Linked DNA regions of Homo sapiens. The protein of the gene in region 5 interacts with the protein of the main gene of each other region in a pairwise test. Each region holds a gene or a part of one and is shown on either strand. Other genes may lie near its edges.

Region 1 (4,221 bases), on a different chromosome or scaffold from region 5:
AGGATGTTGCTCATAGGCTCCCGAGGATTGAGGCCTGCCCGGGGAAAGGGAGCCTCTCCTCCTCTTCCCTCCCTGGGCGGGGTCTCTTGGGAGGGGGGGACAGACCTCCTGTGATGCCCTGGCAGGTGGGCTGGGTTAGGGTGGTAGGGAGGGAGCCATTGTGGCTGCAGCTGGCATCGGATCCTGGCCACCCCCGCAGTGCATATCAGAGATCACACACACACGCGTGCACACACAGAGGTCACGCCGGATGTACACATGCACACATAGCGCACAAGGATGTTTCTGTGTACAGGTGTGCACACGCAGCCCACACAGAATGGACATGTGCGTGTGTGCACAATGCACTCACACAAAGCTCACAGGGATGTGAGTACACAGCTCTCAAGGGGCATATGTTTCTGTGTGCATGTGCACACAGCTCACCCGGGAGGGTTACGTGTGTCTGTGTGCACAAGTGGGCCTCACGCAGGGTGTACACATGCGCGCACATGCACAGCGCTCACACAGGGTGTACAGGTGCGCGTGCACACAGCTCACAGTGCTTATGTGTCCGTGTATGCACACTCGCAGAGAGCCCACAGGGGGACCACTCTCTCTCTGAACACAGAGAGTGCCTGAGAATGCTGGCATCACAGTTGTTTTTGTCCCCAGTAAAACAACCACTCTCCACCTTCCGCTCTGTTCTCCCCCTCGGGTCCACTCTCTCTCAGGGTCCTGGTCTCCTTCCTTTCCACCTGGGTGGTGGCATCCAGGACCTGCCTGAGTTCATTCTCCGCCCCCAGCCCGGCCTGCCCCAGGTGCCGCCGGCAGCCACTGGGAGGCAGTACGAGGCAAGTGCGATGCCGCCCGCGGGCCGTCCCCACAACGCGTCTCCTGCCGGGGCAGGTCCCGCGACAGCTCTGGTGGAAGCAGCTTCCGGCTTCTGCGGTGCGGGCGGAGGTGGCGGGGTCCGGCCCTCGCCGTCCAGTCCGCGCGAGGCGGTGCCCGCCCCTAGATGGCCAGATCTCGGCGGCCGGTGGCCGGTGACGCCTTGCCGCGGCCGCTGCCGCACTCGCGGAGGCTGGCCGGCGCCGGGTGCGCATAGGCCGGCGGGGCGCACGGCTCGGGGCCGGGGCGCCGGGAGGGCAGGGCCGGTGGCGGAGGTGGCGGCGGCGGCGGCGGGAGCAGCTTCTGCGCCTCTTCGTGTGCACGGTTGCAGCGGTTGTCACGCTCCCCGGCGCGCGGGCGGCCCTTCCAGAGCAGGTGGCCCAGCTCGGCTACGCTGAGCAGCGCCGACAGCAGCCCCACCGCGAAATAGAAGAGCACGAAGACGGTCTTCTCGGTGGGCCGGCTCACGAAGCAGTCGACCGTGTGCGGGCAGGGCGGACCGGCGCACGCGAAGTGCGGGGCCACGCGGAAGCCGTAGAGCAGCGCCTGGCCGCCCAGGAAGGTCAGCTCGGCCAGCAGGCGCAGCGCCACGCTCAGCAGGTAGCAGCGGCGCGCGCGGCGGGCGCGCAGGGCGCACGGCGCGCACTGGGCCTCGGGCAGTCCGGGGGCGCACTGCGCCGCCGCCTCAGCGCCGCCCGCCTCCTTGCCTGCCCGGTGCATGGAGTAGACGACGAACAGCACCGGGGGCGCCGAGAGCAGCAGGATGTGGAAGAGCCAGAAGCGGTAGTGGGAGACCGGGAAGGCGCGGTCGTAGCAGGTCTGGCGACAGCCCGGCTGCAGCGTGTTGCACACGAACTCCTCTTGCTCGTCCTCGAACACGGCGCCGCCCACCGTGGCCAGCACCAGGATGCGGAAGATCAGCATGACCACCAGCCAGAGGCGGCCCACGAGCGGCGACTGCAGCTGCACGGCGTCCAGCAGCGAGCCCAGGAACGCCCACTCCCCCATGGCGCTGGGGACGCGGGGCGGGGAGTCAGGGGATGGGGCAAGTCAGGGACCCCTGCCCCTTCCAAGCCTATCGGGGTGGGGTCCGTTGGACCTTCTCTGACTTCAGGGTGAGTCGTGAGGTAGGAGAGGCCCGGGTTTAGCGATGAGACCAGTATGAAACGGAGGGCCACGGGAGGGCCCGAGGGGAGCAGGCGACGCTCAGCTATGGGTTACCTTCTCTTTGGGACCGATGGGTGCTGGGGAGGATCCCCCATTTGCATTTTAGCCGCACCCCCTGAGCCGTCTCCGTTCGACCCTGGGATCCTCCAGATCCCAGATTCTTAGGAAGGACCTTGGAGATCAGCTGGACCAGCCCCTGACTTGCCTGGTTTCGGAAGCGGAAACCCAGCGGTGCCCTTAGCTGTCAAGGATGCTGTGGGAAGAGTGGAGCCTCGAACCCGAGACGCTAGACCCAATTTGGTGCCCATGGGAGGAGTGGGAGTGGCAGAGGCAGCGAGACCACTCCTTTCTTGGCCCACCATTTCTCTCACCATTTTTACTGCAGTGAACTCCTCTCAGGGTGGGGGGCTGGTACAGAGGCAACTCCGCTTTCATAACTCTCACAGGGTCCTTTGTCGGAGGTGTCCCTGCCCTCCTACCCCAGCGTGGTGGGAGTGCGACGCCAGGCTTCTCCCTCCTCCCTGGCCTCCTGTGCCTCCAGCCTCCACATCTCCTGAGATCCTCCCCACCCCACACTTACACAGGTCCCCACACGCCCCTGGTGCCCCTAAACCGCCACCCAACCCCACTCACCCTGGGGCCGGGACTGGGGTGTCAGAGCTGAGCCAGGGACCTTGGGAGGTGGCTGGGACCGGCGCCTCCTGCTCCCTCTTTCATTTTCCCTTTCGGATTTGGCCAGGATGGAGGACAGGACAGGATGGCTGAGAGGGGCTAGCGCTCCCCCTTCTCTTAAAGGAACAGGGTGACCCTGCTGGCTGGCTCCGCCCTTGGGAACAGGCACGGACCACGCCCCTTGCTGGGCTCTGTGGCCCTCACTCTTTAGCTAAATTTCCATCTGGAAATGGGGGAGGGGGGTAACCAGAGCCACATCCTTTATCGAGGAAGCTGGGGGATTCCTAGAAGCCCTTCCCAGACAGACCCTCAGTCTGGAGCCTAGATCCACTACGCACTAACCATGCCCTGTGAAGATGGTCTTCGGGGACAGAGGGAGGTTTGGTGCTGGAGTTTAAGGGGCAGCAAACATCTAACAGCTTCTGGTTCCAGCTCTGCCACCGCTCACCTTGGACAAATCATTCGGCGGTACTGAGCCAGGCTTTCCTGCCTTGTCAACAAAGGCGGCCAGTCCAGCTGACCCCCAAGTTTCCTTCCAGCTTTACATCTTTTTTGGAACGGGGTCTCTCTACATAGCCCAGGTCGATCTTGAACTCCTGGCTTCAAGTGATCCTCACACCTTAGCCTCCTGAGTAGCTGGGATTCTCTACTTCTTAATATTGAATTCCCAACCATATTACAGAGAACCAAAAAAACCCTTGTGCCTGCAAAAAAAAAAAAAAAAAAAAAAATCCCATATGGAAAACCATTAAAATATCCCAAGTGCCTGGCTTTGATAGTTAAATAAAATCTTTGGTTTCCTTCCCACTTTTCTGTTATTTCCAGCTTTACTATAATGAACATGTTATTTATTTATTTATTTTTAATTTGTTTGTTTTGAGATGGAGTCTAGCTCTGTCGCCCAGGCTGGAGTGCAGTGGCATGATCTTGGCTGAATGCAACCTCCGCCTCCCGGGTTCAAGCGATTCTCCTGCCTCAGCCTCCCCAGTAGCTGGGATTACAGGTGTGCGCCACCACGCCCGGCTAATTTTTGTATTTTTAGTAGAGGTGGGGTTTCGCCATGTTGACCAGGCTGATCTCGAACTCTTGACCTCAAACAATCCGCCTATCTCAGCCTCCCAAAGTGCCGGGATTACAGGCGTGAGCTACCACACCCGGCCTAACATGTTATTTTATTATTTATTTATTTATTTATTTATTGAGACAGAGTTTTGCTCTTGTTGCCCAGGCTGGAGTGCAGTGGTGTGATCTCAGCTCACCGCAACCTCCTCCTCCCGGGTTCAAGCGATTCTCCTGCCTCAGCCTCCTGAATAGCTGGGATTACAGGCATGTGCCACCATGCCCAGCTAATTTTGTATTTTTAATAGAGACAGGATCTCTCCATGTTGGTCAGGCTGGTCTCGAAATCCTGACCTCAGGTGATCCACCTGCCTCGGCCTCCCAAAGTGCTGGGATTACAGGCTTGAGTCACCGCGCCCGGCCTCATGTTATTTTATAATGTGAAAAATAGGA
Region 2 (3,500 bases), on a different chromosome or scaffold from region 5:
AAGCTGAAGAGACAGGGGCCAGGGCTGCTGTAGCTGGGACCAGGCAGAAACAGGACAAGCAAAACTGGGGGCGGGGAAAGATGGAAACGGGGCAGAAAGGGCAGCTCAGACTGTGAGGGGACAAAGGTCACTGTGGTTCAGGAGCCTCCCACCGTCCTGAGCACACGTGTGCACCTGAGCGTGACTGTGCACGCAGTGTCTGCAACCAGACGGAGGGGGAGGGGGGAGGGGGAGGGGGAGGAGGAGGGGGAGGGGGAAGAGGAGGAGGAAGAGGAGGAGGGACCAGGAAGGCAAGGCACACAGCGAGAGGAGCGCAGGATGGAGAAGACCTGAGGGGACTGAGAGGCGAACGAGGCAGCGGCTGGAGCGGGCGGGCCGAGGGTAGACGTGGGAGGGCCAAGCAGGGACCCGCACAGACACTGTGTGCCCGAGACACAGGCGGGGTCCCTGACAGGGACATGGCCATGACCTTCAGTCAGTGGAGAGGAAGAGGGAGGAGGTGGCGGGGAGGGGGACACAGACCCGTCTCAGAAGATGCAGAAAGGCCAAGGGAAGGGGACACACTCTCTGGGAGGACCCGCTAAGCAGCGCCGCAGCGTCTCTCCGGCCCTCCACTCGCCTGACACCCAAGGGACACTTTCAAAGCCCAACAGCTAAGGACATGTGGCCACGTGCTGGCCCCGAAGTGCTCTGTACACCAGTGTGGACTCAGCGACACTCGCCACGTCCCGTCCACACGGGACAGGACAGGACGCGAGGAGAAGGGGCGCCAGCTCTGGGCAGCCGGAGGGGGACCGGGAGGATCTAGAAGCAACCCTCAGATTCCCGCGCGCTCAAGTTTCCCAAGATCAGAGGCAGTATTGGAACACAGCATCGGTGATGAAACAACGTATTTAGAAGTAGACATTTTCGCAAACTGCAGGAGTGTCTGAAACCACAGGGCTCGCCTGGTCCGGGCACAGTGCAAGAGGCGCTGGGTCCTGGGGGAGGCGCCCTGAGCGCTGTCTAGGAATGCGGCTGTCAAGAGGCGACATCACCACTGAGGAAGCGGGACAGAAACACCTGAAACTTCGTTTACACCCCACTGGAGCAAAGCCGCTCCCTCCTCTGACTGCGGGACTGGCCTGTACCTGTGTGATATAATTTAGCACCTGGAGAAGAGAAATCTAAAGAGATATCGTTAATCACACACAATTCACAGAGAGAAAAGGAAAAACAGCTTACTTAACATCACTGTACTTTACTATGAAACACTTAAGTACGTCACTAAGCATGTATGTCTAAATTAAGTTACGACTAAGACTTAACAGCGTAACCGACATGGAGGAGGAGCACTCCTAACCGTGGGGAGGGAGGTTCAAATGGCAAACTATGCTCCAGCATGGTGGGCATGCTGCGGCGCCACCTGGCGCTCGGGGCTGCCCCGACTGACCTGGGCCGGTGGTGCGGGGGCGGCACGGACGTGGCGGGCAGACCCAGGCTGCAGGTCTGCTCACGTGGCCGGCCAAAAGCAGCTGATGAACCAAAACCATGCGGGCGGGCGGGACAGACAGCAGCAGCCACGGAAAAGGGGCACAGAAACTGGGCGCCCATCGTCCCAGCTCCACAAACCAGCATGGATGGGTGTGCAAGAAGCTGAGGGAAAATGAGGGGAGGCCCTGAGGTGACTCCTCACCCCTCCTCCCACCTGCCCTGCTGACTTCAGAGAGGGGAGAAAACTGAAAAAAAAGAAAAAGAAAAGAAAAGGAAAAAAGAAAGAAAGAAAAAAAAAGCATGGGATGGATCACGGAAAATCCAAACTCCACACCGAGCCAGCTGACCCAGCTGACGACACGAAATGAGACCGGCCACACTGGGAGGACTGGATGAGGGTGAAGGAAGGTCAAATGCAGAAGGACCACACTCTTCCGGACAGTGAAAAACAGAAGCCAGGCCGAGACTCATGACAAGTCGTAAAAACTTCAAAAGAACAAGCCAAAAAACAATGTGTGACGTCTGACCTCGGGAAGCACAGACAGGCTGAATGGGGTGCACATGAGGAGCCCACGTTTTAGTCATTTGTCTCCAAATCGTCCCTTCCTGAGGCTGTTTGCTACAGCCGCCACCTGTGTGTGCCTGGCGGGTGAGATAGTTTGCCATCTGAGGGAGGAGCAGGGAGAAGGCCGAGGTCAAACTAGATCTGCCCTTACCTCGGGGCCTCTGCTTCTCGGCGTCATAGATCATGACTACCTCCGTGACCTGGAAGGAGAGGGTGGCGTCAGCACGGACACCAGGGCCAGCACCACAGGTGGTCTTCCGAGGGCACAGCCTGTTCCCACGAACCCAAACTCTCGCACAGGGTGCGCCCTCCCTGAGCGGGGGAGGTGCACGGGCAACAGCTGCTCCGTGGGGCTGCTGTCTGAGAAAGGCTGGAGCCCCAACACTCCCAGGGCCAGACGCAGGCAGGGAGAAGCAGCTCCAGGGCAGGCGTCTGGATACCCGCCTCCGGGCTGCCCGTGGCCCCGCTCACGTGTGTGCTGACGGACATGAAGGGCCAACAACGCCGACCACGCATCCTAGCAGGGGACGTGGGAGCCAGGAGACCCCACAGAAGCCCTTCCCACCCAAACGCGGGAAGCAAAGGGCACGCTCGGCCCTCACTCGAAGTGGCGGGGCAGCCACACACAGCTCCTCTGCAGACCCTGCTCTTCCAGGCCCCGCTCAGGCCTCTCATTCCTGGCCCAGGCCCGTGGCACCCTCAGGTACCACCTGATGAACGTGCGCAGTACTCAGGCACGCAGGGCTGTCCTGCTGGCGGGGCTCGGAGTGTGACCTGCGGGGCACGGCAGGAGTCCCAGCAGGACCTTGGGGTGACCACACGCCCCTGCCTTGGGTGACTAGGAGGGCTCCCCGCCGGCCCCCTCCGGCTGTCCCAGCTCCCTCTGGCACTGGGCTCAACGGAGCTCGGGCATTCTCCCACCTGCCCAGTGGAAAGTCAGCTCTGTGGGGCTGGCTCGCCCAGGCCACACTGAACCCCGTTTCTGTGTAACTGCCCTTCTCTGACACTGGACCCCACGGTGTTCACAATGGAATCGGGCGGCCGCCCTGAAGGCTGTCAGGCTGGTTCACCGCCCAACCACCCTACTGGGACACGAAATGGCCATGAAGGCAAAGGCCGGGCTTTCCACCTTTCCGGAGGGCGCAGGCGTTGGGGAAATACGAGACAGCGAGCTCCCAGCCTGAAAGGCCCGTGCACCTGTGGCTCGGCCACTCCAGCCCCAAGAAGGCCCAGGCCTGAGCAGAAGCGGCTCTGTCCCCACAGTGCTGCCGGGGTGGGGAGAAACTCACCACTCCGAACTTCTTGAAGTATTCCCTGAGCTCTGTCTCACCACAATTGTGAGGAATTCCACCGACAAATATCTTATTTGATTTACTGTTATCGCTCCTGGGTCCTTTCTGCTGTTGAAGAAGGGAAGGATAGTTAGTTCACACGGGAACCCTCCAAACCCTCCCGCGAGCTG
Region 3 (3,313 bases), on a different chromosome or scaffold from region 5:
ATGGTGAAATTCCGTCTCTACTAAAAATGCAAAAAATTAGCTGGGCGTGGTGGCGCATGCCGGTAATCTCAGCTACTTGGGAGGCTGAGGCAGGAGAATTGCTTGAACTAGGGAGACAGAGGTTGCAGTGAGCCCAGATCATGCCATTGCACTCCAGCCTGGGCAACAAGAGCAAAACTCTGTCTGAAATAAACAAATAAATAACGTATTCCTTTTTTGTTATCTTGTCATCTAATCTTATTCACCTATTTTAACAATCATAAATGGAATCAATTTGCCAATTGATGCAGTCTGTTAGAAATTGTAAAAACTTTTGTGTTTTTTAGTCCTCTTGTATTTATTGCTTAAACTGTTTTAAAGTTCCTCTGTAGTAACTGTAAATGTTTCTAGAGTTTTACTTTAGTTACTATTTACTTTTATTTATTTACTTTTTAGAGACAGGGTTTCACTGTCACCCAGGCTAGAATGCAGTGGCTCAATCACAGCTCACTGTAACCTCAAAACTCCTGGGCTCAAGGAATCCTCCTACCTCAGCCTCCCAAGTAGCACGCACGCATTAATTTTTATTTTTTTATTATTTTTTTTTTTGTAGAGGCAGGCTCTCCCTATGTTACCCAGGCTCATCTCAAACTCTTGGCCTGAAGGGATCCTCCCACCTGGGCCTCTAAAGGTGCTGGGGTTACAGGTGTTAGCCATCACAACTGCCCGATTTTTTTTTTTTTTTAGACGGAGTCTCACTCTGTTACCCAGGCTGGAGTGTGGTGGCATAATCTCAGCTCACTGCAACCTTTGCCTTCTGTGTTCAAGTGATTCTCTTGTCTCAGCCTCCTCAGTAGCTGGGACTACAGGTGTGCGCCACCATGCCTGGCTAATTTTTTTATTTTTAGTAGAGACAGGGTTTTGCCGTGTTGGCCAGGCTGGTCTCGAACTCTTGATCTCAAGGGATCTCCATATATGGAGTCTTGCTCTGTTGCCCAGGCTGGAGTGCAGTGGCGCTATCTTGGCTCACTGCCACTGCAACCTCCACTTCCTAGGTTCAAGCGATTCTCTTGTCTCAGCCTCCGGAGTAGCTGGGATTACAGGTGCGCACCACCATGCCTGGCTAATTTTTGTAGTTTTAGTAGAGACAGGGTTTCATCATGTTGGCCAGGCTGGTCTCAAACTCTTGACCTGCAGTAATCTGCCTGCCTAGGCCTCCCAAAGTACTGGGATTACAGGCATGAGCTACTGCACCTGGCTGATTTACTTTTAAGCTTTTGTTTACTTCTTTGTTCTTTCTGCTTTTTGTTTTTTGAGATAGGGTCTTACTCTGTCAGCCAGGCTGGAGTGCAGTGGCAGAATCTTGGCTTACTGCTCCTCCACCCCCTGGGCTCCAGTGATCCTCCTACCTCAGCCTCCTGAGTAGCTGGAACTACAGGCACATGCCACCATGCCTGGCTAATTTTGTTTATTTTTTGTAGAGATGATAAGCTCTCATTATATTAACGAGGCTGGTCTTGGACTCCCGGGCTCAAGTGATCCTCCTGCCTCGGCCTCCCAAATTTCTGGGATTACAGGCATAAGCCACTGTGCCCGGCCTCTTTAAATTTTTTTAAAGTAATTTTTATGTTTTATTATTTGCAGTTCATAATTGTATTACTTTATAATTTGTTTTTACCTATTTTATTTTTATTTATTTATTTATTTTGAGATGGAGTCTTGCTCTGTTGCCCAGGCTAGAGTGCAGTGGCGGTATCTTGGCTCACTGCCACTGCAACCTCCACCTCCTGGGTTCAAACGATTCTCCTGTCTTCAAACGATTCTCCTGTCTCAGCCTCCTGAGTAGCTGGATTACAGGTGCGCGCCACCACGCCTGGCTAATTTTTGTATTTCTAGTAGAGACGGGGTTTCAACATGTTGGTCAGGCTGGTCTCGAACTCCTGACCTCAGGTGATCTGCCCACCTAGGCCTCCCAAAGTACTGGGATTAAAGGCATGAGTCACCGCGCCCAGCCTGTTTCTACCTATTTTAAAATATCAGCAAGAAGGATGAGCACTGCAAACCAGCTCTAAGGGCAGAACTCTGAAAGACAACTGAGCTGCTGCTACAGTGAGCCTTCATGCCCTTCACAGGAGCTCCTCCAAAGTGTCTAGCCCAAACTGCCCTAGTACAACAGTCAGTGGATTAAAGTTACAGACAACCACCACCCTGTAACTGCTGGCACAGCTGACCTCACTTCTAAATCACCCAGCTATTTGTGCAAGCAACATGGTTCAAGCTCAGGGCTAGGGGCTCGCCCTGTGTGGTGGCGGGAGGGTCAGCAACTGTCACATCTCAAGAGGTGGCAGGAAGTCTATGTAGATTCTCTTTCACAGGCAAATTTCAATGAATCACCAGGTTGTCTTGAATTCCCGATGAAGTCTCCTTATAAAGGATGTCTGTAACTAAACTTCTGGAATCTGCCTCACACCAGGCTCAGATGACTTTTGTCCAGATCTGGTTTCCTGAGCATCTGTTCCTTGTTTTGAGAGCTGAGGAGGAACTGGCTAGAATGAGGAGCATCCCCATCTCAAGGTTTCAAGGTGGAGGGTCGAGCCCTGGTTCCGTCTCTGACCCTCAGCTCCCCGTGTGGTCAGAAGGCAAGTGCTTTCTACTTGCCAGGGCCCGTGCAGCAGACTGGGGCTGGTGGCAGGCACCTGCAGACACAGGCATGGTGGCAGGAGAGACACCCCAGGCCTTCAGAAGAGGGTCTGAGGGGAGCCCACGGAGATGCAGCAGATGCAGGAAGCAGTCACTCCAAGAGAAAAAGAGAGGTGAGCTCAAAATACCAAATGCCACTGTAGGCCTGAAACCAAACTGGCTAGGACCAAGCTCCTCTGCTCTTGAGGGTCAGACTTCTGCACTACACTGCCCCCATTTTCCTTGCCCCATTATCCTCTTGTTTAGTACCTTAACAGTTATCAGAGTTAAAGCTTTTGGAATTTTTCAAGGGATTTTGTTCTTAACGGGCAGTCGGGGGAATTAGGTGACGAGTTCCTTCCTTTACCATCTGCAAAGGGTCAGAAGGGAAGAATCCTCACTGTCCTCACCACTGGTATCTGTACTGTGCCTACCAGTCAGTCAGTTCCTGGGGGCAGCACGTGTGTCTTTCCACCTGGGCATTCCCAGCATCCTGCACACGTGCATCACAGACAGTCCATGTTGTGGAAGGGATCAGTGGTGCAGGAGCACACACGGAAGAGCTAAGCTAATGACAAACATCAGAGGAGGCTGCACGGAGGTGGTGGCATTGAAGCAGGGCCTGAAAAATGAGCAGAGTTTCAAATAAAGGGGT
Region 4 (3,500 bases), on a different chromosome or scaffold from region 5:
AATTTAGAGAAGACAATTAAATGTGCCAAGACCATTGTAAAAGGAAAAGAAGGGATGGGAGCATGGTAAGTCTTACATTTTTATGTAGCCTGTATTAACGACTTTCACTCATGATCTCTAATCTGAATCTTGGCTAAATCTTGGCTGTTGCGCACGTGCAGTGCCAAAACTAAAAGGCTCTGACTCACCAAGGTAAGTAGCAGAAAACCACAACCTCAAGGCCACAGAGGGAAGGAAATAATTATCAGAGAAATTGCCTTGAATTGTACTTTTTTTCCCCCAAATCTTGTTTAGGGTTATATAGAAAGCTAGGATGAACATCTTCAAACTAAATCTGTGTTTATTATGATAATCTCTGATTATTTCTATCCTTTAAGTTCCTACAAGGTTTTTGAATACGTTTAAGGTTCTTGATGCATGTTGTGAAATCCAGCAGGCCCATATTTGTTTATATTTCTACAAAAGGTTTAGTAAAATGTAGATTTACTGCACCTTCACCAATCACAACATTTTTGCGATTTAAAGGTGAATAACTGGCTGGGCATGGTGGCTCACACCTGTAATCCTAGCACTTTGGGAGGCTGAGGTAGTTGGATCACCTGAGGTCAGGAGTTCGAAACCAGTCTGACCAACATGGCAAAACCTCGTCTCTACTAAAAAAATAAATAAATAAATAAAATAAAATAAGTCGGGTGTGGTGGTGTGTGCCTGTAGTCCCAGCAACTCGGGAGGCTGAGACAGGAGAATCGCTTGAACACACAAGGCAGAGGTTGTAGTGAGCTAAGATCACACCATTGCATTCCAGCCTGGGCAAAAGAGTGAGACTCCATCTCAAAAAAAAAAAAGGTGGATAATAATTTTGTCTTATCTTCTTTTGTCTTTTATCATATCCCATTCGGGTGTTTCCCCCCATGTTTGTTATATATTACTATTGTTTTGTAATTTTTTTCTTCTTTGCTCTTTGCCTATTTTAAAATTCAAGTTATATTATTTGAAAGAGCTCTTTGTGTATTTGGTACATTAACTGATTTTTGTATATTTATTGCCAAAATAAATGCAAATCTAGTTTCCTCTTTAGCCAGATATTTGCTTAGAAGAGTCTAAAATTTACAAGTGGTTGGCCTATGTCTGACTTCTTTCACTGAGTGTTGCATTTGCTTATGTTTTTGTGTGTGGTTGTGATTCATTCTCATTGCTATACAGTATTCCATTGTGTGGATTCACCGCAGGTTACTTATGCATTCCTCTATTTGTGGGCATTTGGTAGTTTCTTCATTTTTAGTGCTGCCATGGACAGTCTATACTTAACTTTTGGTGAATATGTAAAAGGATTTCTGTTGTTTTTACTGAGGAATAAAATTGCTAGTCATAGGATAAGCATATTTTCAGATTTGGCATATTGTGTCAAACAGTTTTCTAAAGAGATTTTTATCAATGTACACTGCCATCAGAAATTATGCATTTCAGTTGCTTCACATTCTCAACCACGCTTGGTAATTTCCAGTTTATTCTCATGACTGTGTTGTGGTATTGCATTATGGTTTTACTCTGCATTTCCCTGATGAGGTTTCAAATGTTTATTGGCCATTTATGTATCCCCTTTGGTGAAGTGCCTCTTCAAATCTTTTGTCAATTTTTCTATTGTGCTGTCTTTTTCTTATTAATTTGTAGGAGATATTTATATATTCTGGATAAAGTTTTTTTGTTGGATATATGTATTGCAACTATCTTTCATTCTGTGAGTTACCTTTCTATCTTTTTTTTATAAGAGACATCTCAAAAAAAAAAAAAGAAAGAAAAGAAAAGAAATGGGGCCTTGCTCTGTCACCCTGGCTAGAGTGCAGTGGCATTATCATAGCTCACTGTAGCCTGGAACTCCTGGGCTCAAGTGATCCTCCTGCCTCAGCCTCCCGAGTAGTGAGGACAACAGGCACATGTCACCATGCCTGGCTCTTTTTTTTTTTTTTTTTTTTTAACCTTCTCAAGAGTGTCTTGATAAACAGAAGTTCTTAGTCACAATGTAGTCTAATTTATTATTGCTTTCCCTTTATGGTTATTTTAACAAATATCTGCCTATTCCTTGGTCTTGAGGATATTCTCCTTTTTTTCCTAAAAGCTTTATTGTTTTATCTTTCACATTTGGCTCTGCAATATCCTTTCTTTCTTTTTCTTTCCCTGTTGCATTGGCTAGGATCTCCAGTGAAGGTTGAATAGAAGTGACAATAGTGGCAGCCTTGTCTCATTTCTAGTCTCATAGGTAAAGAAGTTTAATATTGTGTCATTACATCTGATGTTTTAAATTTCTGGAGATACTCTTAATCAGATTGTGTTCCTTTCCATCTCTAGTTTGTTAAAGTTTTTTTTTAAATCATGAATGGGTGTTGAATTTTGGTTACCTTTATTTTTTTGCAATTCTGTGTTAGCTTATCCACCTGACTTAAAAATTCAAACTATTGTCTTTTTTTAATCTCTCTTAACTCCCATGACTTTTCCAAAGGTCATATCTGGTGACATCTTATTGAGGATGTCAGTTTTATAAAATTTACTTCTGGATCCTGCAGTATGTTATTTTCATAATAAATTTTATTATGATGTGCTGGGAGCGGTGGCTCATGCCTATAATCCCCAGCACTTTGGGAGGCTGAGGTGGGTGCATCACCTGAGGTCAGGAGTTCAAGACCAGCCTAGCCAACATGGCGAAACCCCATCTCTACTAAAAAAAAAATGCAAAAATTAGCCGGGCGTGGTGGCATGTGTCTGTAATCCCAGCCACTCGGGAGGCTGATGTAGGAGAATCGCTTGAACCTGGGAGGTGGAGGTTCCAGTGAGCTAAGATTGTGTGACTGTACTCCAGCCTGGGCAACAGAGCGAGACTCTGTCTCAAAAAAAAATATTAATAAAGAAATTTTATTATGATGCCCCCTTTTCTTTTTGTGATATTTCCGCATAGGTCCCGTGTTAGCTTTATCCTCTTTACCCTTCCTTGAATAAGGACAGAGTTACCCATATTCAGTATTTGCTAAATGGACAGGTTGTGTGGCTTTTTCTTGTCTCTGTTCACTGTTACTTGGATTATGGCCAGACCCTTTTCTCTGACGTCTACTTGGGGGTAGATTGGTGTGCACATCTCTTGGCCTAGTTTCCAGTTTGTAGATTTTGCTGGTGTGAGTGTCTTTCTGATATGCTGAACCAATGGAGTGCATGAAAATCCTCCATTTCCAGCTTACACTGCTACCATCTCCATCCACGCTGTTTATGATGGCAGGCCTACACTACCCAGTGAACTCTGCACCACCACAAACTTCCTTCTTCCCCTACCTTTTCTCCCCCCGTCCCACATTTTATAATTACCTGCCTGGTTGATTCTGGACATTGTAATCTCCAGATAGATCTAGAAAGAGTGTCATATTTCCTAAGTCCCAGATGGCACAATTTTTCAGATCTTAGTATTTCTGAAACTAGGCTTTATTTTGTAACCAATGTATTATGCCCCCAAAGCT
Region 5 (3,500 bases):
AGGAGAGAGCAGAGTATAGGTCAAAGGCCAGTTTAAAGGTCCAGATCAGGCAGGGTGCGGTGGCTCATGCCTGTAATCCAAGCACTTTGGGTGACCAGGGCAGGCGGATCACGAGGTCAGGAGATCAAGACCATCCTAGCCAACATGGTGAAACCTCATCTCTACTAAAAATATAAAAATTATCTAGGTGTGGTGGTGCGCGCCTGTAATCCCAGCTACTTGGGAGGCTGAGGCAGGAGAATGGCTTGAACTTGGGAGGCAGAGATTGCAGCGAGCTGAGATCATGCCACTGCACTCCAGCCTGGCAACAGAGCGAGACTCCATCTCACACACACACACACACACACACACAAAAAGTTCAGATCAGTATTTGCCGAACTCTTTGTCATTTATCTACTCTAGTTAAAATTTTTTGCTTTATTCACATAGTGCTTTTTTCTTTAATAAATTAGTAACATTATTGTGTATAATAAAATTAAAACATATTATACATTTTAAACAAATAAGATCCACTAAAATATAAAGTATGAAATGTAAATAGTAATCTAATAAATTTGCTAAGTCCCCTAGTGATAAGAATGGAATAATTTTCCTCATTAAAAATCAGATATTCTGCTTGATAATTGCTTAAAGATACTGATGAGGCTATTGTACTAATTAGATGATTGCTTTTTTCCACTTTTGATGCTAACTAGCATAAAAAATGTCAAATCTAGTTTATTTAGTTGGAAAATAGAAAAGATATTAACTGTCTTCTCTGACGTAGCATATATATTGTGTATACTTCATATTCTAAAAGTCTGTCAGCTCCTGGAAGCAAAGTTATGTCACTGTTGAGAATGGGATGATGAATTGGAAATCTGTCTAAACTTCTGATTAGTTAAAAAGAAAGTTGGATATCCAAGGATTTGAGGCATACACTGGCATGCAAGGTGCTGATGCCTGTAATGTATATTAATTACTATAGCACTGTCTGCTTTATTCTCATTTGTAGTGATGCTATTCGACAAATCACAGGTTTGATACATTAGACACTTTTCTTTTAATTTCTGTGTAACTATTAAAAAATAAGTTATCACAAAAATCATCTTGCATTCCCCAGGTTAGGAAATATTGGGTTGCATATCTGGGAAAGTGCATAAGACTTGTTTTACTCCACTCCTATGAAATTTATGTATTTAAGGATGTGTTAGAAAAAATTATACACTCAGCCACTAAAGGTTAGAAATGTGGAACTTCATGTGGGAACATTGCTCCAGCCACACTTGGTACGTCAATGCTACTTCATTAATATTATACCTATTTAACATCAGATTGTATGTTGAGTATAGTATCTTCTGTAACAATTTAAAAAGAGCTCTAAACTAATGTTCCTGCTTATGACAAAGTCAGTGGAAGAAGAGAATTGGGGTTAAATGTTTGTCTCTCAGTGGATAAGGGCTATTTGAGTAGAATATAAGAAACCAAGTAGTAGTTCCTTAGACAGAGGGAAAGAGTCACTATCTTTGTTGGAATAATTATTTCCTTTTCTTTTCTACTATCTTTTGCTAAACTTTCTACTCTTCCACCATGTTAATTTATCTTTAGTATGAATATCAGAGAGTATTACTGTGTTATATTCCAATAATAGTTAAAATAAACATCATCTATGCATACGTTATCTTCTTATGATATAATTGCCCTGTTATATTAGTTATCTGTTGATGCCTAATAAATTATCTCAAAACTTAATGGTTTAAAACAGCAGTTAACATTTATTATCTTACATACTTTCTTTGGATCAGAAATTTAGGGGTGGCTTAACAGGGTGGTTGTGTCTGGTAAGGCTGGGTCGGCTGTCCTCTGAAGGCTTGGCTGGTGATAAAGGATGTAATTTACAAGATAGTTCACTCACATGGCTTTGGGCAGGAGGCTTCAGTCCCCTGCCACATGGATTTCTTCAAAAGACTGCTTGAGTTTTCTCTTTGCCAAGGCAAAAATTATTTTGAACAAGGAATTATTGATTCTGGTTTCTCCCTCAATAAGTGATCCAAGAGACAGAGCAAGGAGGAATCTGAAATGTCTTTTTAGACCTAGTCTCAGCAGTCATGGGCTGCTGCTTGTGCCATATTTCATTTGTTAGAATTGAGTCACTAGATCTAGCTCATGTTCAAGGGCAGTGAAATTCGGTTTCACCCTTCGAAGGGAGGAATGTCAGATAACTTGTAGACATTTTTTAATACCTGTTTAAACTAGGTTAAGGTGATAACCCTATTGAGTTACAGTCTGCCAATAGGAATCCATAAATTTATTTTGGGAATAGGAAGAGGGTGATTCATATAGGGAATCCGAAAGTTCTAAAAGGAATGATTGACAGACAGGAGGGGGGATGCCCATCTCTCTTTGAGTTTTACCCACTGTGATCTGTTTTTTTTTTTCCTTCAATTTTCTGGGTAAAAACATCTGATCTGTGTTTTAAGGAGAGATGGGACTCTGTCACACAGAGGCAGGCTCAGACTGGCAGTTAATGCATCCAGAATGGACTTTAAACTGAATTGTTTTTTAAATTAAGATACCTAAGTTCTATTTACTAAGCAAGTCTATTTACTTGTAGGTAACTTACTATTTATTTTCCTCTGTTATATGCTAGCCTTCAGTAAGTATTTAAGTATCCTATTCTTGGCTCAGATATGCTGAAGGGGCTTGGACTAAGGGATTAAATAGACGACTTTTGCCTTTCTTTTCTCTTCTAAGACCTGTTTGGTGGCAATGGCAATGAGCTCTCAACGGTTAGGTAAATTTAGGGGATCAGTTAAGACTTGTGAAATTGAGATACTACTTTGAACATTAGGATTCTCCCTTCATTACTACTGTTAAGAGGATTTGCATATGAATTATGAAAGGAACTTAATAGCTTTCTTACATTGTCTCGTTCTTATGCTATACAGTCATGCATTGCATAACAATGGGGACATGTTCTAAGAAATTGCATCATTAGGCAATTTTATTGTTGTATGAACATCATAGAGTGCATTTACACAAACTTAGATGGTATAGCCTACTACACATCTAGGCTTTATTATATAGCTTATTGCTCTTACGCTACAAACCTGTATAGCATGTTACTATATTTAGTACTATAGACAATTGTAACAGAATGGTAAGTATTTTTGTATCTAAACATAGAAAAGGTAAAATAAAAATATTGTATAAAGGATTAAAAATGGTACATCTGTATAGGGCACTTACCATGAATGGAGCTTAGAGGACTGGAAGTTTTTCTGGGTGGGTCAATGAGTGAGTCGTGAGTGAACGTGAAGGCCTAGGACATTACTGTACACTATTATAGACTTGACTTTATAAACACTGCATTCTTAGAACACACTAAATTTATATAAAATTTTTTTCTTCTTCAATAATAAATTAACCTTAGTTTACTGTGACTTTTTTACTTTATAAACTTTGAAAATTTAAAAACATTTTGACTCTTTGGTTATAACACAAAACACAAACATGTACAA
Region 6 (3,301 bases), on a different chromosome or scaffold from region 5:
AAGACCAAAATACGCCACCCCAAAACCTAACCCTAACCCTAACCCCTAACCCCTAACCCTAACCCTAACCCTAACCCTAACCCCTAACCCCTAACCCTAACCCTAACCCTAACCCCTACCCCTAACCCCTAACCCTTACCGGTGACCCTACTGTATCCCTGACTCCTAACCAACGTTGATCCCTAACCCTAAACCCCTTACTGTAACTATAATCTTCATCCCACCCTATCCCTAGCCTTAGTGCCATCCCCCAGGCTTTTTCCAGGATGGGATTTTATGTGATTGTTTCGAATAGGTGGAAATCTCTGCTCATTTAGGAGTCGTTCAATGTAACAAGGATCTTGGTCTTCACAGAGACCCTAAACGCGTGTGGCCCAGGGCCATGTGGATGCCATCAGCCACTAGGTGGCAGCAGGGGCCCTTTGGATTTGAACAATGCAGCTCAGTCAGAGGGCTGGACTGGGACACCCCTACTCATGGTCTCTCTTGGCATGGTTTTGTTTGGTGACTCCAGGTGTCCCAACCTCCTGTGTCCATTGTAATATGTCCTGGGACCATCTCCCCCAGGGCCTTCAACCTGGGGGGTTGAACCCCAGGATAGCAACCCCAAGCCCTCCTTGCTATCCTGGCTACTGATGGAAGATGTACCTCAAGCCTGTCCCATTCCTCACTTCCTGCTGAGACCTGGCCCCAACATGGCCAGCTCTATGTTCCTCAGACCCTCTCAGGCCACCTTCTCTCTTCTAGGCACTGTCACTGGGCTTCTCCCCACCCCATAGATCCACAGCCCCCAGGTAGTCCTACAGCTGTGTCCACTCGTGCAGCCTGCACCCCCTTCCCCTACTCGGCCACCCCATCTGAGTAGTAAGGGGCCCCTGCCTGATTGGAGACCCCCAGATGCAGACCCAGATCACACAGCACACTGATAAGAGGAGGGATTCGCACCTTAAAAGAAAGGCGTGGGACCAACCCCAGATCCCACCACTCTCGGCCTCAAGGGCAGGCATGACTAGAGGCCCTTGGTGGCCAGGACCCACTGCCTTCTTCACCGATCAGTTGGCATGGCCTCTCACCAGTGTTCCCTCCTAACACACCTGTTCTCTCTCTCACACACCCTAAAGCCGCTTGCCAACCACCTGTCACACAGCCACTCCATGCCTGTTGCTGCTTGGCACCCACTGGGGGCCAGGGATGTGAACAAACCTCATCTAAGCTGGCTGCCGGGTCCTAATGGGCAGGTCCGGTCCGCCCTCTAGGAGAGGTGCTGTCCGGTGAGGCATAAAATCCCGGGATTCTGGCTGGAGGCAGCTCCTGAGACTGCTGGCATGAAGGGGAGCCGTGCCCTCCTGCTGGTGGCCCTCACCCTGTTCTGCATCTGCCGTGAGTCTGTGCCACTGGGGTTTCCAGAACATTCAGGGGTGGGGGGGAGTGGGGGGTACCTGAGAAGGTAAAATCCTGGCATCGGGCCTCTGCAGTGAACACTCCACCTGCTTCTGTCACAGAAGTGGGCAAGGACCCTGCAGAACCCGCGCCCACCCTACTCCACCCCAACCAAGGACAAAGCCCAGCTGACCCAACACCAGCCCAGTGTCTCCTACCCCAGCCCAGTCCAGCCTGACCTGACCCTTCAAGCCTCTGGTCATAATAGCCTCTCATCAGGGGAAATTTCCCCCACACCAGGAGCTTAACTTTCCTTCCCTGGTGATCCCAGGGAATGCTGAGTGGAAATTGGAGCAGCTAAGATTAAGGGGGATGTGGAGGGGTCTTCGGGCAAGGTGGAGTTGGAGGTGTTGTGGAGGAAGCCCTGGGGAGGAGAGGTGGGCATTGAAGGGGAAGGTCTGGAGACCATGGAGGTTGGAGCCCTGGGGCAGGTCCAGGGCTGTGGTTGCACCAGAGTCACCCTGTCCTGTCCTGGCATCATCTCGCTCGTGATGCAGGGATGGCCACAGGGGAGGACAACGATGAGTTTTTCATGGACTTCCTGCAAACACTACTGGTGGGGACCCCAGAGGAGCTCTATGAGGGGACCTTGGGCAAGTACAATGTCAACGAAGATGCCAAGGCAGCAATGACTGAACTCAAGTCCTGTATAGATGGCCTGCAGCCAATGCACAAGGCGGAGCTGGTCAAGCTGCTGGTATGAGGGCGGCGGGCACCCCATTTTCTAAAGATCTGCAGCCTTACCAAGACCACCCAACACAGCACCCACACAGCCTACCCCACCCACAGACATCCACCACCCACAGACATTGCACCCGCATCAGCCAGCTCAGGTGGACACCCCAGACCTCCTGTCCACCGAGCAGCCCCCAGACTCCATAGACCTCCTCCCCAGTCTGTGGGATACTCCTCCATGCACACATGTGAACATACACAGAGATCCAAACACAGGTGCAGACATGAAATGTACACTGCGTGCACACATGTATAAACACGTTCACACCCACATGCTCACACTGGGATATGCACACACATACATGTGTGCACACCATCACATGTGCACACACACCTCCCAGCTGCTGGGAGGAGATAGGCAGCAATATGCCAGACCCCCCCCCACTGAGGGCCTTGCTTGCCTGATGGAGCTGTGGCTCTCCACTTATTGAGCACAGCCCTCTTAGTCCACATGTGTCTGCCTTCCAGGTGCAAGTGCTGGGCAGTCAGGACGGTGCCTAAGTGGACCTCAGACATGGCTCAGCCATAGGACCTGCCACACAAGCAGCCGTGGACACAACGCCCACTACCACCTCCCACATGGAAATGTATCCTCAAACCGTTTAATCAATAAAGCCTCTTCCGCAGCTCAGGCTCCTGTCTCTGCCCCCACAGAGGGGCACACAAATGGGGACATCAGGAACACACTCGGGGCCACAGCCACACACACAGACCCACATACAGAGGATCCCACTCAAGGAGCACACGTGCGAAAGTCCCCACAGAGGGACACACAAATGGGGACATCAGGAACACAGGGCCACAGCCACACACACAGACCCACATACAGAGGATCCTACTCAAGGAGCACACGTGCGAAAGTCCCCCACAGAGGGACACACAAATGGGGACATCAGGAACACAGGGCCACAGCCACACACACAGACCCACATACAGAGGATCCCACTCAAGGAACACACGTGTGAAAGTCCCCACAGAGGTACACACAAATGGGGACATCAGGAACACAGGGCCACAGCCACACACACAGACCCACATACAGAGGATCCCACTCAAGGAACACACGTGTGAAAGTCCCCACAGAGGTACACACAGGGTCCACACAGGAGCAGGCACACCACAGGCA
Region 7 (3,500 bases), on a different chromosome or scaffold from region 5:
AGATGTAATTTTCAGGAGTTAACCACAGCAAGATGATTGTTGAAGCCTGGGATTGGTAAGAAAGTATGTAGGTAAGAACAAAATATCTAAGAGAAGCTTGGGGAGATGCCTTTCTTTAAGCAGTGGAGTATCAAGGAAACCAAAAGAGTAAAATGCAAAGATACAGTGCTCCTGGGGATGAGTGGGGGATGTATAGTGTTATGATGTTATAAATGGGAGGAAGGCTGGGCGCGGTGGCTCACGCCTGTAATCCCAGCACTTTGGGAGGCTGAGGTGGGCGGATCACAAGGCCAGGAGCTCGAAACCAGCCTGACCAACATGGTGAAACCCCACCTCTACTAAAAATACAAAAAGTAGCTGGGCATGGTGGGGCATGCCTGTAATCCTAGCTGCTCAGGAGGCTGAGGCAGGAGAATTGCTTGAACCCAGGAGGCGGAGGGTTGCAGTGAGCCAAGATCGCACCACTGCACTCCAGACTGGGCGACAGAGCGAGACTCCATGTCAAAAAACAATAATAATAAAATTAAAATAAAATAAAATAAAATAGGGAGAAAAATCTTAGAATACAACTTCTGTAAATATGACTGCTGCAAGCTTTGTACATAGAATGCAGGAAAGTGAGATCCACATTTTATTTATCTTCACATTCCCTACCCTATTACAGTATTACTATAGTACAGTATATGGCAAGAAGAAATTATTTCCTAAATGAAGGAATGAATAGGACTTTGGCATCATCATAAATATATTGGTCTTCGGTCAAAATTTCCACGAAGTCCTGACACTTGTAATTTTTGTGTCTGTCATCACACCCATTTCCATCTCTCCCAAACCAATGTGGAAAGAAAGGAACAAAGCTTGTTCTTATTAGTGTCTTGAGTCTTTCCAGGACAGAAACAACCTGATCAAAAATAGAGTAGGAAAAGAGGATAGAACAGGAGGCTACTGAATTATCAGTGAGGGGGAAAATGCTATAGCAAGAATTGAAAATGTGGACTAATCTGATAGTTTTCTGACCCAACTTTATCATTATCTGGAATTATTTTCTAGACACTACTAGTGTCATTGGCACATATATTACTCTTTCTCTCTCAGAGCATTTCCTAATTTAGAAAGAAAAACTGACTACAGATAAAACTGGATCAATTCTTGTTCTGTGAATCCAGGCTCAATACAATTTAATGTCTTTTAATTGCTGCCCTATTTTGTATTAATTTCATGTTACATTTAATTTCAACAATGATTACTGGAATTTCGTAGAACAAGAGGAAAAGTTAGGCTTGATTTTTGACACAATTTTAAAACCTACAACATTTTGACATTTATTGGGACATCCCACCTTATTTTAAAGTTTTATCACTGTGACAGCAGGCCTATTCCAGTAAGCAGAAGCTAGCATATAAATATTATTTATGGGTTTTAATGGCCATATAACTTCTAACACTATTTTTAAAAACCAGTTTTGTACATTTTGTGTTATAATGGTTATGAAGATTAAAAATAAAAATAATTAGCTGGGCGCTATGGCTCACGCCTGTAATCCCAGCACTTTGGGAGGCGAAGGTGGGCAGATGACCTGAGGACAGGAGATCGAGACCAGTGGCCAATATGGTGAAATCCTCTCTTTACTAAAAAATACAAAAAATTAGCCAGGCATGGTGGTGCATACCTGTAATCCCAGCTACTTGGTAGGCTGATGCAGGAGACTCACTTGAACCTGGGAGGCAGAGGTTGCAGTGAACTGAGTTCGTGCCAGTGCACTCCAGCCTGGGTGACAGAACGAGACTGTCTCAAAATAAATAAATAAATAAATAAATAAATAAATAAATAAATAAATAAATAGCTGCACATATTTATACCTAAAATTAAAATCTGAAAGAAAAAAAGCAGATATTACATTTAAAAATGCAGTATGAATAAGTTTGTATTTCTAATTTTACTCACAAATTATGATTTCTGGTAAGATTGCTTTTTATGGTTAAGACTACTAAGTGGTTTACCTAAGATACATCTAAAGTAATTAAGCAACTAAGCCAGATTGCATCCAGATATGAAAATATACACTATAATATATTCCAATGACCTCTCAAGTATAAAATCATTCAAATGAAGCATACTGGAATATGGCAGCCCAAACCACCCAGACAAAAGGAGTATATAAACTTGGTCTGTGGAGCAGAATGTCCATTGGTAATAACAGAAAAACCTACGGTTATGGGAAAACAGGATACAAAAAAAAAGATCCTATTGCCAGCAAATTACTTGAACAGTTTTGAAAGCAAATTTCAATCCTTTCCATTTATCTGTTTCTTACAGCATTCCACCAATCATACATCTTTGCCATTGGTTTGTTTTCAGGATATCTATATTCACTGGGATAAACATTTATAATTTTAACATACAGATATACTAAAATATTATTTATAACCTACTTGCTTATACCCAATATTTATGAGATCCTATGTGTATAAATATATGGTATTTATAAATATCATATAGGTATAAATATATGTATAATAAATCACACATGTATTTATATGTATATTATATATTATACATAAGCTGCATATATTTATAAATATATGTATACATATGCATATATGTATATTATGTGTATGCATATGCATATATGTATGTGTATACAAATGCATATGTATTATATGTATACATACATGTATACATATTATATGTATATATTATGTGTGTACATATATGTATGTATATGTACACATATGCATATATGTATATACATATATAAATGCAGGTGCATGTATGTACATATGTATAAATATATGGTATTTCTACATATAGGATTTCATAAATATTGGGTATATAAATTATATATATATATATATATATATATATATATATATATGGCCTAACTACTGCCAGTGTTGGGTAGATTCTAATAAGAACAATAGCATGATTCTGTCTTCAGTGCATTTATAAACTTGTTGCCAAAACAAGTTCTATTCACATAGAACAGAAAATTTTAGACTGCAACAAAGTGCCAAAAGGTATGGTACAAATAACAAGTGCATAGGAAGAGTTCAATCTTGCCTCAAATAGTCAGGAAATGGTGACTAGAAAGATAAGTTATTATGCAGACTAAAGGTAAGGGGAATGGTCTCTTTAGAAATAATTTGCACCTTGAATGTTCTTTGCCCTATAAGTTATTTTCATTATTTTAGAAAACATTTTTCTCTTTTCAGCTTCGTGGTGGATCCTGAACAACTAGATGTTCCTAGACATTTTCTTTATGGTTCCAAGTGCAAAACAGGTGTTCTTATCTAAAACGTCAATTAGAAAATTATCTGCGGTTGTTAATCTACTGTATATTTTTGTTTGGTATATTTACTAAGTGCACTCTTTCAAAACTTATTCTATAACTTTATCAATTCATGTGAATTTTAGCTCAATTTTCAAAGTTCACTAATATTCTCAATATTTAATGCTAAATGCTTTGCTACATTGTAACTCACCTAAAACCTTTTAGTGAC

Evidence for each region.
Region 1: the proteins of BMP2K (region 5) and GJD3 interact in a two-hybrid assay, tested with the Homo sapiens proteins (one large-scale study listed by IntAct).
Region 2: the proteins of BMP2K (region 5) and DAZAP1 interact in a two-hybrid assay, tested with the Homo sapiens proteins (one large-scale study listed by IntAct).
Region 3: the proteins of BMP2K (region 5) and RABL2A interact in a two-hybrid assay, tested with the Homo sapiens proteins (one large-scale study listed by IntAct).
Region 4: the proteins of BMP2K (region 5) and LYZL4 interact in a two-hybrid assay, tested with the Homo sapiens proteins (one large-scale study listed by IntAct).
Region 6: the proteins of BMP2K (region 5) and SCGB1C1 interact in a two-hybrid assay, tested with the Homo sapiens proteins (one large-scale study listed by IntAct).
Region 7: the proteins of BMP2K (region 5) and NECAB1 interact in a two-hybrid assay, tested with the Homo sapiens proteins (one large-scale study listed by IntAct).

What each region holds. Positions count from the first base shown.
Region 1 is NC_000017.11:40,361,938-40,366,158, forward strand, and holds the start of GJD3 (gap junction delta-3 protein), read right to left. Parts: upstream 2,801-4,221; 5' UTR 1,879-2,800; coding exon 994-1,878; 3' UTR 1-993. UniProt on the Homo sapiens protein: One gap junction consists of a cluster of closely packed pairs of transmembrane channels, the connexons, through which materials of low MW diffuse from one cell to a neighboring cell.
Region 2 is NC_000019.10:1,421,086-1,424,585, reverse strand, and holds part of DAZAP1 (DAZ-associated protein 1), read right to left. Parts: intron 3,439-3,500; coding exon 3,328-3,438; intron 2,239-3,327; coding exon 2,190-2,238; intron 1,167-2,189; coding exon of another isoform or gene 1,075-1,166; exon of another isoform or gene 876-1,074; intron 1-875. UniProt on the Homo sapiens protein: RNA-binding protein, which may be required during spermatogenesis.
Region 3 is NC_000002.12:113,637,266-113,640,578, reverse strand, and holds part of RABL2A (rab-like protein 2A), read right to left. Parts: intron 3,281-3,313; exon of another isoform or gene 1-3,280. UniProt on the Homo sapiens protein: Plays an essential role in male fertility, sperm intra-flagellar transport, and tail assembly.
Region 4 is NC_000003.12:42,400,611-42,404,110, reverse strand, and holds part of LYZL4 (lysozyme-like protein 4 precursor), read left to right. Parts: coding exon 1-65; intron 66-3,500. UniProt on the Homo sapiens protein: May be involved in fertilization. Has no detectable bacteriolytic and lysozyme activities in vitro.
Region 5 is NC_000004.12:78,873,850-78,877,349, forward strand, and holds part of BMP2K (BMP-2-inducible protein kinase), read left to right. Parts: intron 1-3,500. UniProt on the Homo sapiens protein: May be involved in osteoblast differentiation.
Region 6 is NC_000011.10:191,775-195,075, forward strand, and holds SCGB1C1 (secretoglobin family 1C member 1 precursor), read left to right. Parts: upstream 1-1,325; coding exon 1,326-1,380; intron 1,381-1,937; coding exon 1,938-2,137; intron 2,138-2,643; coding exon 2,644-2,676; 3' UTR 2,677-2,801; downstream 2,802-3,301.
Region 7 is NC_000008.11:90,952,275-90,955,774, forward strand, and holds part of NECAB1 (N-terminal EF-hand calcium-binding protein 1), read left to right. Parts: intron 1-1,669; exon of another isoform or gene 1,670-1,712; intron 1,713-3,212; coding exon 3,213-3,238; coding exon of another isoform or gene 3,239-3,294; 3' UTR 3,295-3,500.